Linked DNA regions of Homo sapiens: region 2 is reported to be linked to region 1. Evidence: microRNA targets listed by miRTarBase, many of them from high-throughput screens and not tested one by one. Region 1 holds a microRNA gene; the other region holds the end of a gene's coding sequence.

The links. The annotated mature microRNA hsa-miR-548ah-5p reads AAAAGUGAUUGCAGUGUUUG and lies in region 1 at 3,328-3,347, shown strand. An mRNA with a match to its seed (bases 2 to 7 or 8) in the 3' UTR can be bound and repressed. Matches are read on the target gene's strand: a 7mer-m8 pairs with bases 2 to 8, a 7mer-A1 pairs with bases 2 to 7 and ends in A, and an 8mer does both.
Region 2: the mRNA of ZNF714 is a reported target of hsa-miR-548ah-5p. Seed matches in the 3' UTR shown: 7mer-m8 at 5,552-5,558.

What each region holds. Positions count from the first base shown.
Region 1 is chr4:76,572,234-76,579,907 of GRCh38, forward strand. MIR548AH (microRNA 548ah) reads left to right here and starts at 3,318; the gene lies at 3,318-3,393. The region is part of intron 2 of SHROOM3 (shroom family member 3); the gene reads left to right. MIR4450 (microRNA 4450) reads left to right here and starts at 1,335; the gene lies at 1,335-1,399.
Region 2 is chr19:21,116,524-21,124,197 of GRCh38, forward strand. ZNF714 (zinc finger protein 714) reads left to right here. Exons shown (of 5, transcript NM_182515.4): 5 at 284-7,674. The coding sequence ends at 1,809. It also overlaps the pseudogene VN1R81P. Among named protein-coding and RNA genes, the nearest start is that of ZNF431, 22 kb to the right of the region's middle.

The sequences.
Region 1 (7,674 bases):
AAGTTACTATTCATATTTTAAAGGGCAATTTTGCAGGTTGTCAACATCTTACCCTAAAGGAGTGAGTTCCCAATGGTGTAATCTCAGTGACAAACTGTATACCGTGATAGGTGACAGGACCTTCAGGTCATGGGCAGAAAGTGATCTTAATAAAGGCTGACCTTGGCCACTGCAGCCTGCATGTTCTGGGGCATCCTGAGGTCTCCCTGTGTGACTGACACTTCCCCTGAGGACTATTCCCAGTGCAGTCAGTAGGAAACCTTAGTGGTCAATGATGGTGGGCCAGGGAGGTGAGGGACAGAGGATGTGTCAGATATCCTAATAGTATATACAGTTTAAAGACTCATTTCATAATTTTGGGAGTTGTTTTCTAGGGATATTGTGATCGTTCAAATGTAAATATCTGCATCTTGAATATACTGGAAAAAAGTGATTGGCATGTTTTAGGGGCAGCTCTAGCAGTATAACAGTGTACGGGTTTGCCCCTTTATGGTTTGTGGGTAGGAAGAGATTTATTCTGAACTAGTTTTCTCTGCTACCCAACTGCTTATGAAATATGAACACAGGCTGGGTTCAGTGGCTCAAGCCTGTAATCCCAGCGCTTTGGGAGGCCAAAGCAGGTGGATCACTTGAGGTCAGGAGTTCGAGACCAGCCTGGTCAACACGGTTAAACCCTGTCTCTACTAAAAATACAAAAGATTAGCCAGGTGTGGTAGCACACGCCTGTAGTCCCAGCTGCTTGGGAGGCTGAGGCAGGAGAATTGCTTGAACCCAAGAGGAGAGGTTGCAGTGAGCTGAGATTGCACCACTGCACTCCAGCCTGGGTGACAGAGCTAGACACTGTCTCAAAAAAAAAATAAAAAAGAAAAAAGAAAGAAAGAAATATGAACACAAGCTTGAAACTCAATAAAATTGAGATTTAGATCTGTCACTTGCCCTCAACAGGCACAACAAGGTAAGGTGGCCAGATTTAACAATTAAAAATACAGATGTCCTATTAAATTTGAATTTCTGATAATCATTGAATTTATTTTAGTCAAAGTAGGTACCCAATTTTATCTACCAAACCTAGTCACATGACAATTTAGATGTATAGAAAAAAATGTAGGTTCCTTGTCTTCCTTACAAACCCACTTCTGCTGGTTGGCAATAATAATAATAATAATAATAATAATAATAATAATAATAATAATAATTTTTATTCCTGGCCAAGTTAAAAGCTCACCTGGTCCAATCAATTTGAATAGTCCCTTAAGGGGCTCAGTCTGAAATAAAATCCTCCCTTGCTCAGATGTCATCTTTTTTCTCCACTGCCCAGCTGTCTTGCTAAACAGTGTCTGGGGATTTGGAGAAGTGGTGAGCGCAGGTCTTTGGCACCATCTCCCCTGGTCCCTTGGCTCTGTCCATAGCCTTCCCAGCCACTGCTGGCCTCCAACGCTGAATCCTGCAGCTGGTAAATCCATGGTCAGCCATGGCCTGGGCAATGCCCCTGGGATTGCTGGCAACCCCACACTTACAGATTCAGTCTCTGCTCAGCTCCCCTTAGCTTCAGACAACTTAGCATCTGCCAAACTCTCATCCCAGCAACTCCTGACCCAGGGCCCATCCTAGGATCATCTCACCCCACCATAGTTGCCTCCTTGCAAGTCTGCTGGTTGCCGTCTGATGTCTGAGATTCTTCCTTCTGTCTGGACCTCTAGAGACCTCGAAATTGAGCCAGGCCAGACCTACTCCAGTGACCTTCTCCTAGGGTCTCAAATGGTGCAGTGGAGCCAGGGTTCCCTGAGCCCTTTGACATTCTCCTCACTTAGCTCACACACTTTCCCTCTCCTCCCTGAGGCTAGAAGAGAAATCAGAACTTGGTCCTCACAGCTTGACTTGCCACCATCTTTTCCCTCATTTCCACAAGTTGCTGGGATCTTGAGGGCTGGGTTTTCTCACTATTTCTCACTCTTCTCTGTGCTTCCCTACTTCTATAACTTCAAGCTTCTTGTCTTAGTTGGGAGGGGTATCTTCTTTGCACGATGGGAAAATTTTGGCAATTAGAATCCTCTAGGCCTCACCCTGGATAGGTTACAATGGTTGTCAAAAGTGTGATCATGCCCAGGAACTTCTGGAAAATACAAATTCCCAGGCCCTGCTCTAAGCCTAATGAATTGGGAACTCTGGAGTTTGAGCCTAGCAATCTGATTTACCAAGTCTTCCCCATGATTCTGATGCACCCTAAAGAACCATGGCATTAAATATTTCAGCAAATTCTCTCTCTCCCTCTCTACCAACGCCTTTCTTACCATTTTTCATGCCTAAACTCTTATTAGACAGACCGGATACTCCCTCTTAATCTAATTGATTGATTAGCTACATAAACTCAAATCATTTTGTGATTAAAAAAAGAAATGTATAGCCTTAAAAGCAAAGGAAATTCTGATATATGCTACAACATGGATGAACCCTAAGGACATTATGCTAAGTGAAATAAGCCAGTCACAAAAAGACAAATACTGTAAATGATTCCACTTGTATAAGGTACCCAGGGTAGTCAAATTCATACACAAAAAATGTAGAATGGCAGTTGCCACAGGTTGGGGGAGGGGAGATTAGGGAGTTTTGTTGAGTAGGTACAGAGTTTCAGTTCTGCGAGATGAAAAGAGTTCTGGACATTGGATCTACAAAAATGGGAATATACTTAATGCCACTGAAGTGCACCCTTAAAAAACGGGTATACCAGCAAACCAAATTCAATAGTACACCAACAAGATCATTCATCACAACCAAGCGGGATTTATCTCTGGGATGCAAGGATGGCTCAACATATATAAATCAATCAATACTATATATCTTCTCAATAGAATGAAGAACAAAACCAGATGATCATTTCAAGTGAAGCTGAAAAAGCATTTGATCCTTTCATGATAAACATCCCTTCATGATAAAAGTCCTTCAAAAAACTGGGTATAGGAGAAACATACTTCAACATAATAAAAGCCATAGATGACAGACCCACAACTAGTATCACACTGAATGGGAAAAAAATTGAAAGCCTTTCCTCTAAGATCTGAAGCACAACAAGGCTACCCACTTTCACTACTGGTATTCAACATAGTACTGGAAGTCCTAGCTAGAGCAATTAGACAAGAGAAAGAAAAGGCATCCAAACTGAAAAGGAAGAAAGCAAATTATTTTTATTTGCAGATAAGATGATCTTATATTTGGAAAAACCTAAAGACTCCACCAAAAAAACTAGCAGAATTGATAAACAAATTCAGTCAAGTCACAGGATACAAAATCAACATACCAAAATCAGCAGCATTTCTATTAGGTTGGTGCAAAAGTGATTGCAGTGTTTGCCAATAAAAGTAATGACAAAAACTGCAGTTACTTTTGCACCAGCCCAATATATGCCAACAGTGAACAATCTGAACAAGAAATTTAAAAAGTAATCCCATTTACAATAGCCACAAATAAAATTAAATACCCAGGAATTAACCAAATAAGTGAAAGATCTCTATAATAAAAACTATTAATATAATACACTGATGAAAGGAGTTGAAGAAGATACAAAAAATGGAAAGATATTCCATGTTCACAAATTGCAAGAATCAATATTGTTAAACTTCTCAAAAGAAGACATATAAATGGCAAACAGATATATGAAAATGTGCTCAACATCATTGATTATTAGAGAAACGCAAATCTAAACTACAATGAGATATTATATCATCCCACCCCCGTTAAAATGGCTTATATCCAAAAGACAGGCAGTAACAAATCCTAGTGAGGATGTGGAGAAAAGGGAACCCTCGTACAGTGTTGGTAGGAATGCAAATTAGTACAACCACTACGGAGAACAGTTCAAGGTTTCTCAAAAACCTAAAAAGAAAGCTACCATACGATCCAGCAATCCCACTATGGGGTATATACCCCAAAGAAAGGAAATCAGTACCTCTAAGAGGTATCTGGACTCCTGTGTTTGTTGCAACATTCTTTACAATAGCTAAGATTTGGAAGCAACTTAAGTGTCCATCAACAGATGAATGGATAAAGAAAATGTGGTACTTACACACAATGGAATATTATTCAGCCATTTAAAAAAATGAGATCCTGCCATTTGCAACAACATAGATCAAACTGGAGATCACTATGTTAAGTGAATTGAGCCAGGCACAGAAAGACAAACTTTGCATATTCTCACTTGTTTGTGGGATCTAAAAATCAAAACAATGGAACTCATGGACACAGAGAGTAGAAGGATGGTTACAGAGGCTGGGAAGGGTAGTAGGAGGCTGGTGGGGAGGTAGGGATGGTTAATGCATACAAAAAGGTAGGATGACTAATACCTACTCTTTGATAGCACAACAAGGTGACTATAATCCATAATAATGTAATTGTACATTTAAAAATAACTAAAATCGTGTAGTTGGGTAGTTTGTAACACAAAAGATAATGGCTTGAGGAGATGGATACCCCATTCTTCATGATGTGATTATTATGTGTTGCATGCCTGTATCAAAACATCTCACGTACCCCATAAATGTATACACCTACTTTATAACCACAAAAATTAAAAATTAAAATGTTAAAATAAAAAATGGGTAAGATGGTAAATTTTGTTATAAATATTTTTAATTTTTAAATTAAATTTTTAAAAATAAAAATAAAGGACTTTGGTGATTAAAGCAAAAATAAAAACTGGGTTAAAAACAGTTTAAGCAATAGGTATTGATTTGGTGAATGGTGACATGGCCAACTCAGCTGATTATTCATTGAACGTAATCCTGGAGGTTAGGGTTCAGAACTGAATACTGGAACAAATGCTCCTGGTAAACATGAGTATTTCACCAAACCTTAATTGAATTTCTGATCTACCTAAAGTATAAGAAGGAGCTGGTCAAATAGATCTGACTCTAGCGTTCCAAAAGGGTAATCGGTGTCAGTGTGTCTGTTGAGATAAAAGATAATCTATACTTGAAATTTTCGCATATCACAGGCTAAAAAGCCCTCTGTGTAAATTAATTCCTAGTGGTCTATATCTTTCTACATTAAAAATATGGGCAAATCAAATTTCCCCATCCACCAAAGGGACGAGGTGCTGGGGAAGGTCTGATTGTTTACTCTTTACTGTGTATTGTTGTCAGCAGTACATTGGTTAACTAGGAATTATTCTAAGTCCCTTCATTGCCCTGTTCTTCCAATCATTTGGCATCAGGTGAATGGTTCCAGCCTCCCTAGAGGCAGCAATAAAGGACAGGGACTGGTATTGGAAGATGGTGGGGCTGTAGACCAATACCTCTGCCTCCTGTATTATTTGTCTACCCAATAAAATAATATTCTTTAATATAACAATTCACGTTTATCAATCTTGTTAAAGGATGAATTAAAGAATCTTTAGAAAAATGCTCCAGTCTAGGTAAAATCTGAACTTATTATGCGTAACACAGGTTCAAGACAAGTCCCCTATAACTCCTTCACAATCCAGTTGCTAACATTTAGCCCCTCTTATAAGAAATTCTGCAGCCACCACTGTTCTAACTCCATTTCCATGCTGCATACATTTTCTGAGAGGGAGAAGAATCTTTAAACATCAAATTCTGCCATCTGTCTCAAAACTATATTCATATAAGACAATGTTTCCATAAGCCCCAGGAAATTGGTTTAGGTAAATAAAGGTAGATAATATCTATGTTAATAAAAGATAGTGATATATTTTCTCTCTCTTCTTCTTACTGTGTTCATTGTTTTTTTTTAAGTACCTAGGTAATGTCATCTTTTAATAACCCACACCTCCACCAATCCTTATAATGTAAATCATTCAGAATTTAGATTCTAAATTAAATAAGGTTTATTATGCTCCTGGTTAAGAAAAGAAGGTTATCATAGTTTTGTGGAAGAGCTAAGAAAACACACCCCTAATTTTATGGGGAGGCTATGGAGTGCAATGGAAAAGTACTTGAACTTTGGAGTAGCCCTGACTTTGAATCTGGACTTTTCACTTATTGGCTGTGTGAATCTAGCTGCATAACCTATTACAAACTCAGTTTCCTTTAGCTATACGGTTGGAGGAAACTTTATCTAAATTTGTATCTCAGGGGGTTTTTGTGGTACTTAAATGAGATCCTCTATGCAGAAGCAGGGTGACAAGCAAGTACTTGGCATATGGTAACCGCACAGGAGATGGTAGTTATCAGAAAGAAGAGGTGTGTGAAAGCAGTAATCACCAGAGCTCTTGGCTAACTTTGTGAACTGCATGGGGTTGTTGAGTTTACCATCATTCTTTTTGGTTGTACCTTACTTATTTGAACACAGTTTTATTTCTTTCAGACTTGATGCAACTATATCTGTTATCAGTTTCTCATGGCTAAGATGTGAACGAGACAACAATAGGCAAAGCTCATTTATGATGTAGACCCAAGGTGGGCTGGAAAGTCTGGAATAAGCTGGAAAGGTCTTGATGGAACCTTTTGTGGGTGTTAGAAATGTTCTATATCATTTTTACCCTTTACATAGATTAGTACACTTTATCCATTCTGTGTATGTTACACTTTAATAAACATTTTTAAATGATTTGATAAGGATCACAAGACCCACCCATACCAAATCCACTATTAAAGCAAGTTGATTTTATTTTTAATAAGCCTCACTGAATTTAATAAAGTTTTTTGTGCGAATTTAAAAATGACATCTGGCTGGGCATGGCGGCTCATGCCTGTAATCCCAGCAATCTGGGAGTTTGAGACCAGCCCTGGCAACATAATGAGACCCTGACTTTACAAAAAATTTTAAAAAATTTAAAAAAAAAATTAGCTGGGTGTGGTGGTGCTTGCCTATGGTCCCAGCTACTCAGGAAGTTGAGGTGGGAGGATCGCTTGAGCCCGGGAGGTCAAGGATGCATGAGTCGAGGTTGTGCCACTGCTCTCCAGCCTGGGCGACAGAGTGTCTCAAAAAATAAATAAACAGGCTGGGCGTGGTGGCTCACGCCTGTAATCCCAGCACTTTGGGAGGCCAAGGCGGGCAGATCACGAGGTCAAGAAATCGAGACCATCCTGGCTAACACGGTGAAACCCTGTCTCTACTAAAAATGCAAAACATTAGCTGGGCGTGGTGGCAGGCGCCTGTAGTCCCAGCTACTCGGGAGGCTGAGGCAGGAGAATGGTGTGAACCCGGGAGACTGAGCTTGCAGTGAGCCGAGATCGTGCCACTGCACTCCAGCCTGGGCAACAGAGTGAGACTCTGTCTCAAAAATAATAATAAACAAACAAACAAACAAACTTACACAAGTACTTGGTCTACAGATGTTTGTTTAATCCACATTAAAAATCTGGAAGTTTTGCATAATCTGGATTTCTGGCTTGTGGAGAAGTCAGACGATCTGGCAGCAGTGGGCTGGAGCTGCATGCTTCCACGTCTAATGAAGCATTCCCTCTCCAGTTTGCCTTGGGGCCCCACTGTTTCCTGTGATCCTACACCTGTTGCTTTGCTCATTTACTCCACCTGCCTGGTCTAGTCAGCATTTGAGTTTGCCAGCCTTGTAACACAAACACTGGTTGGCCAGTTATCTTCTTCATCTCCAGCCAACTGACAAAGTTATCTTTTCCACTGAAGAACTGGTTGATGATTTTTAATCCTAAATCGGGGAAGAGAATCGTTGTGTCTTACTCTTTGATCTCTCCAGTCCAC
Region 2 (7,674 bases), not on the chromosome of region 1:
TGGGCAAAGGTAATGGACTTTTCTTTTTCTTCTGTGTCTTTGCATTCCTGTGTACTCATCTGTGTACTCACCTGGGGAACTTTACATGCTTATTTATAAGTTTTCCTTATGTATTTTGGTCAGTATGCTTTTATTACATTTATATGTCTATGAAGGATTTAGGGCCTGTGGTATTTTATTATGGCATCTTGCTTATGTAGTTTGTATAATATAGGTTAGATTTGTAAAGTATGTTTATCAGAGTCTAGTAAGTTGAATAATTTGTTGTTTGTATTTCTTTCAGCTATGTGTTCTTCTTTTACCAGAGACCTTTGGCCAGAGCAAGACATAAAAGATTCTTTTCAACAAGTGATACTGAGAAGACATGGCAAATGTGAACATGAGAATTTACAGTTAAGAAAAGGCTCCGCAAATGTGGTTGAGTGTAAGGTGTACAAAAAAGGTTATAATGAACTAAACCAGTGTTTGACAACTACCCAGAGCAAAATATTTCCATGTGATAAATATATAAAAGTCTTTCATAAAATTTTCAATTCAAATAGACACAAGACAAGACATACTGGAGAGAAACCTTTCAAATGTAAAAAATGTGATGAATCATTTTGCATGCTTTTACACCTACATCAACATAAAAGAATTCATATTAGAGAGAATTCTTACCAATGTGAAGAATGTGACAAAGTGTTTAAGCGGTTCTCAACCCTTACTAGACACAAGAGAGTTCATACTGGAGAGAAACCCTTCAAATGTGAAGAATGTGGCAAAGCTTTTAAGCACTCCTCAACCCTTACTACACATAAGATGATTCATACTGGAGAGAAACCCTACAGATGTGAAGAATGTGGCAAAGCCTTCTACCATTCTTCACACCTTACTACACATAAGGTAATTCATACTGGAGAGAAGCCCTTCAAATGTGAAGAATGTGGTAAAGCTTTTAACCACCCTTCAGCCCTTACTACACATAAGTTCATTCATGTTAAAGAAAAACCCTACAAATGTGAAGAATGTGACAAAGCTTTTAACCGATTCTCATACCTTACTAAACATAAGATAATTCATTCTGGAGAGAAATCTTACAAATGTGAACAATGTGGCAAAGGCTTTAACTGGTCTTCAACCCTTACAAAACATAAAAGAATTCATACTGGAGAGAAACCCTACAAATGTGAAGAATGTGGCAAAGCCTTTAATGTGTCTTCACACCTTACTACACATAAGATGATTCATACTGGAGAGAAACCCTACAAATGTGAAGAATGTGGCAAAGCCTTTAACCACTCCTCAAAACTTACTATACATAAGATAATTCATACTGGAGAGAAACCTTACAAATGTGAAGAATGTGGCAAAGCTTTTAACCAATCCTCAAACCTTACCAAACATAAGATAATTCATACTGGAGAGAAACTCTACAAATGTGAAGAATGTGGCAAAGCTTTTAACCGATCCTCAAACCTTACTACACATAAGAGAATTCACACTGGAGAGAAACCCTACAAATGTGAAGAATGTGGCAAAGCTTTCAACCGATCCTCAAACCTTACTAAACATAACATAATTCATACTGGAGAGAAATCTTACAAATGTGAAGAATGTGGTAAAGCCTTTAACCAATCCTCAACTCTTACTAAACATAGGAAAATTCAGCAGGGCATGGTGGCTCATGCCTGTAATCCCAACACTTTGAGAGGACTAGGTGAGCAGATCGCGAGGTCAGGAGTTCAAGACCAGCCTGGCCAACATGGTAAAACCCCATCTCTACTAAAAATACAAAAATTTGCTGGGTGTGGTGGCAGGCGCCTGTAATCCCAGCTACTTGGGAGGCAGAGGCAGGAGAATCATTTGAACCTGGGAGGCAGAGGTTGCAGTGAGCCAAGATCGCGCCATTCTACTCCAGCCTGGGCCACAAGGCAAGACTCTGTCTCAAAAAAAAAAAAAAAAAGAAAAGAAAATTCATACTGGAACGAAACCCTACAATTGTGAAGAATGTGCCAGTGCTTTCAACCAGTCCTCGAACCTTTTTAAGAAAATAATTTATACTGGAGAGAAATTCTACAAATGTGAAGAATATGGCAAAGCCTTTAACCAGTCTTCAACTCTTACTAGGCATTAAAAATTCATACTGTACAGAAACCCTACGAGGGTGAAAAACATGGCAAAGCCTTTAACAAGCCCTCAATTCTTAACAGACATAACATAATTCATACTGGAAAGAAACTCTGCAAACCAGAAAGATCTGGCAATGCTTTTGACAACACCTCAAACTTTTCTAACCATAAAAGAAATTATACTGGTGAGAAATCTTAGAAATCTGAAGAATGAGACAAAGCCTTTAAATGGTTGTCACACTTGATTGTAGGTAAGATAATTCATACTGGAGAAAACACCTACATGTGTGAACAATGTGGCAAAACTTAACCAGTGCTCACACCTTATTGCACAGGAAAGCATTTGTACTTGAGATAAATTATACAAATATAAAGACTGAAAAAGCCATTAATATATGTTCATATCTCAACACCAGATAGTTCATACTTAATAAAAGCATTATAAGTACAATTACTGTCAAAAGACCTTTCAGAAAATACAAGCTTTTGACCAGGCGTGGTGGCTCAGGCCTATAATCCCAGCACTTTGGTAGGCCAAGGCAGGTGGATCATGAGGTCAGGAGTTTGAGACCAGCCTATCCAAGATGGTGAAACCCCATCTCTACTAAAAATACAACAATTAGCCGGTTGCGGTGGTGGTGCCTGTAATCCCAGCTACTCAAGAGGCTGAGGCAGGAGAATCACTTGAACTTGGGGAGGGAGAGGTTGCAGTGAGCTGAGATTGCACTCTAGCCTGGGCCACAGAGCAAGACTCCATCTAAAAAGTAAAAAAAAAAGAAAATATGAACTTTACAGTGAAGAATATTTATTTTGAAGATGAATGTTACAAATATAAAGTGGGTAGTAGTGCCTTTACTTGTATCACAGATCTTATTGTAGACATTTTTTGTAGAGGAAAAACTCTGAAGCACTTTCACACTTTGTTCAATATCAGGGAATTTATATTGAAGAAAAATCATGCAAATGTAGTAAATTTGGAAAAACACTTTTTCAAAAACTACAGCTTAGAAAACAGAGTTCATACTAGAATATATTTTTGCAGATGCAGTAAAAGTTAAAAAAAATTTAATCCATAAGTAAGTCTGTGTAAATATCAGAATTTATGGTAGAAATACATAAGGCACTGACAACATCAGATATACTAAATCAGAGGGCTGAGTATAGAAAATTAAAGTTGGTAGAAAAATTATTTGTATATAACTTTAAGAGGATCAGAAGGTTTTTTGCAGTTATAATTACATTCAAAGTATACTTTATTTCTTGAAAAATATTACAGATTTTTTGAAAAGTGAATAATGATGTCATTCAACTCTGAAATTCCTGCCGTTTCTTCATTCCTATTGGATTCACATGTGAAAGCATGGGATCAATTATTGCTGTATCAAAGATATGAAAGATTCTTTCTTTGTTTTGTTCTGTTTTTTTGAGATGGAGTTTTGCTCTTTCGTCCAGGCTGGAGCACAGTGGCATGATCTCGGCTCACTGCAACCTTCAATTTCCAGTTTCAAGCGATTCTCCTCCCTCAGCCTCCTGAGTAGCTGGGATTACAGGCGCATATCACCACGCCCAGCTAATTTTTATGTTTCTAGTACAGACAGGATTTCATCATGTTGGCCAGGCTGGTCTCAAACTCCTCACCTTGTGATCCACCCACCTTGGCCTCCAAAGGTGCTGGGATTACACAGGCATGAGCCACTGCTCCTGGCAAGAGATTCTTTTTTATTAGGTGGGCATTATTTGTGATCTTTTCTATTGAAAAGTAAAAACATTAGAATGTAAGATGCATAATGAAAATGTAAGTGGAGAGGTTCTTTGGGGTTAACTTATAATATTGAGTGGTGCATGAGGTTGGTGTTCAGAGTAATATTCTGCATTATGAAAAAACATTTAATTTTATTTAAAATTTAGTTTATCATACTAATTGTACTTTTATATAAGATGCAGTACATTTTTAAAATTTTAGATTGTGTGAAGTTAATAGTTTAACATTTTTAACATGTTAAATACTATTGTGCATTCAATGAAGCATTATTATACCACAAACTTTACCCTGTTCCACCTTACTGAAGGGTATAGGTAAAAGATGGTAACGATATACTATTTAGTAACATAATGGATTAACATCTCTAGTAATTTTTTTTGCCAGTGGCTTTAAACCGCAAATAAGTTAAAGAATATTGTTTCTGTAGGTTAAATTTTTATTTTGTTTTTAATCATTTAAATTTAATTTTGGTGGGTACATAATATGAGTATATATTTATGCACTTATATGGCATATTTTAGTACAGGAATACAATATATAATAGTAGCATCAGGGTTAAGTGAGGCATCCTTCACCCATAGCATTTCTCCTTTGTTTTACAAACAATCCAAACCTACACTTTTTAAAAATTTTTTGTTGTTGTTGTTCTTGTTGTTGTTGAGACGGAGTCTCGCTCTGTCGCCCAGGCTGGAGTGTGCAATCTCGGCTCACTGCAAGCTCCACTTCCCGGGTTCACGCCATTTTCCTGCCTCAGCCTCCCAAGCAGCTAGGACTACAGGCGCCCACCACCATGCCCGGCTAATTTTTTGTATTTTTAGTAGAGATGGGGTTTCACCATGTTAGCCAGGATGGTCTCAATCTCCTGACCTCGTGATCTGGTCTCGATCTCCTGACCTCATGATCTGCCTGCCTTGACCTCCCAAAGTGCTGGGATTACAGGCATGAGCCACCGTGCCCGGCCACTTTTTATAAATTTTAAAATGTACAATTGTTATTTACTATAGAGTTATTTTTATGGTCATAATACAAATTATATATGAGTATAAATAAAATTCATTTCTAAACTATTAATATTTTTTCCAAATTGTTATATATTTTTCTTTGAACATGTGGCCTGTCTGCCTGCAAACATGCAGACTTTTTGATTCACATAGAGTTAAATATGTATTAGTCTAAAGACAAACTTTAGGTGTAAGAAAATTATGGAATAAGTGTGTGTGTGTGAGTATGAGTTTGTACCTATTTTCAGAAAAGAACAATATGGGAATAAAAATCATTTTAATAAGGTGGCTACTATAAAACTAAAAACCTTAAAAAATGCTGAAAGCAAATGTATACTTTGTGCTTTGTATTGAATTTATTACTGTACAATCCATGACTTACAGTTCTGAACCTTTTCATGCAAATTCTCTGTATATACTTGCCTGGTACTCATGCTAGACCCATACTTTTTTTGTTTCTTACATTTTTTTTGTTTTATGGTTTAGGAAGTATTCATTATATGAGCTGGTCTGTGATTATAAGAATTTTTATGAAATTTAGTGCACACAAAATAATTTTTAGATGTAATTCCAAAAGTAGTGTATTAAGTTACATTTTATTTAGTGAGAGCACTCCATTTTGTTCTTTTAAGGGGAGAACAATATATAAGTTTTCTTTTCTTTAGTGATTGTTCCTTTCACTTTTTATAATTGACATAAGTATATTTATTTATTGAGTCAATTTGTTCAGGTAAGTACTGGGGGGCTTCATAAGTCATGAGGATGTTTTTATATATAAATGTAGCAAACATACATTACAGTTCTTACTGTGTAATCGATGCTCCATAATAATTCACAAATATTCCTGCTGGAGTTAGTTTGTAATTTCAAGTCAGAAATGAAAGATATCAGTGGTGAAGAAATAAGATTGATTCTTCATATGGAGTGGACATTTTTTCCAGACTATAAAACTGAATCTTGCTGAATTTAAAGAGAAATTCTGGCCGAGGCAGATGGATCACCTGAGGTTAGGAGTTTCAGACCAGCCTGGTGAAACCCGGTCTCTACTAATAAACTACAAAAATTAGCTGATTGTGGTGGCATCCACCTGTAGCCCAGCTACTCAGGAGGCTGAGGCAGAAGAATTGCTTGAACCCAGGAGGCGAAGATTGTGGTGAGCCGAGATTGTGCCATTGCACTACAGCCTGGGTGACAGAATGAGACTCATAAAAAAAAAAATAAATTCTGCTTCTTTTATTTTCTACTTCTCTTCAGATTTGTTTCTCGTATGTATTTTCCAACTATGTATGCATCACAGCCCTTCTTTTTCTGAGTTATAGCTACAGTTTTCTGACTGTTCTCTTCACGCCATTTCATTTCGCCTGGTATTTTGTAGATTTTGATGACAAAATTCTATTTTTAGTGCACTTAAAAATGGATTTTAACTGGTGAGTTCGCTTATCAATATAACATTCAGATTAGTTAATTAAGATAAAAGCCAGGTGTGGTGGCTCACGCCTCTAATCCCAGCACTTTGAGAGGCCGAGGCAAGTGGATCACTTGAGCTCAGGAGTTCGAGACCAGCCTGACCAACATGGTGAAACCCCGTGTCTACTACAAATACAAAATTAGCCACATGTTGTGGCGCATGCCTGTAATCCCAGCTACTCGGGAGGCTGATGCAGGAGAATCGCTTGAACCCAGGAGGCAGAGGTTGCAGTGAGCCGAAATTGCGCCATTGCACTCCAGCCTGGACAAGAGCAAAACTCTGTCTCAAAAAAAAAAAAAAAAAAAGATTAAAGGCGCACACTGTCCACAGGCAAGAGGATTAAATTAGCATTGCATTTCTTTGTTTTTAAAAGAAAAATCTTATTAGATTCTTATACAAAGTGTGGCAAATATAAAACTTGCTTGAAAATATGGAAATTAAATTTTTAAGAGAGTTAATAGTAAACGAATTTAATTTTCTTTTTTTATTTTTACTTTTTATTTTTTAGAGACAGAGTCTTGCTCTGTCTCCCAGGCTAGAGTACAGTGGTGTGATCTTGGCTCACTGCAAGCTCCGCCTTCCGGGTTCACGCCATTCTCCCGCCTCAGCCTCCCGAGTAGCTGGGACTACAGGCGCCCGCTACCGCACCCGTCTAATTTTTTTGTATTTTTAGTAGAGACGGGATTTCACCATGTTAGCCAGGATGGTCTCAATCTCCTGACCTCGTGATCCGCCCGCCTCGACCTCCCAAAGTGGTGGGATTACAGGCATGAGCCACAGTGCCCGGCCACGAATTTAATTTTCTATGATATAATTACAGCACAATTTACATTTCCGTGCAGAATCTTTTAAGTGTGGTGGTAAAGATTGCAAAATAATAAAATGACCTCTGAATTTAAAATTTAGAAAAATATGTCTTTTCTATATTGATTTTACAATTTGGAGAAATTTCTCTTATTTTTTATATTTTTTCTTTTAGTGGGAGAAGTTTAGTCTACGGTTTTTATTTTTAGTCACCAAGCTGTAGCCAACTCCTGGGTCATTTTCTCTGAAAAACATTTGGAGATCATGACAAGTTTTGGATTAAAACATTCTGTTATTTTGCATGCAAACTAGTTTACTGTGTTCACAGACTGGCCAGTCATGGGACCATAAGCAACACCTGCCCCTTTAGTGGCTTTCATACCATTACCACCAGTACCAGAAACTCCAGGTGGCCCAAGCTTAAAGTAAAAATCCTAAAGTACATTGGCTTCTCCCATGCAATGTGCTGGGTCCAAACCATGCTGTTAAATATCAGAGTTCCTATGGTTATGACTGACAAATGACAAT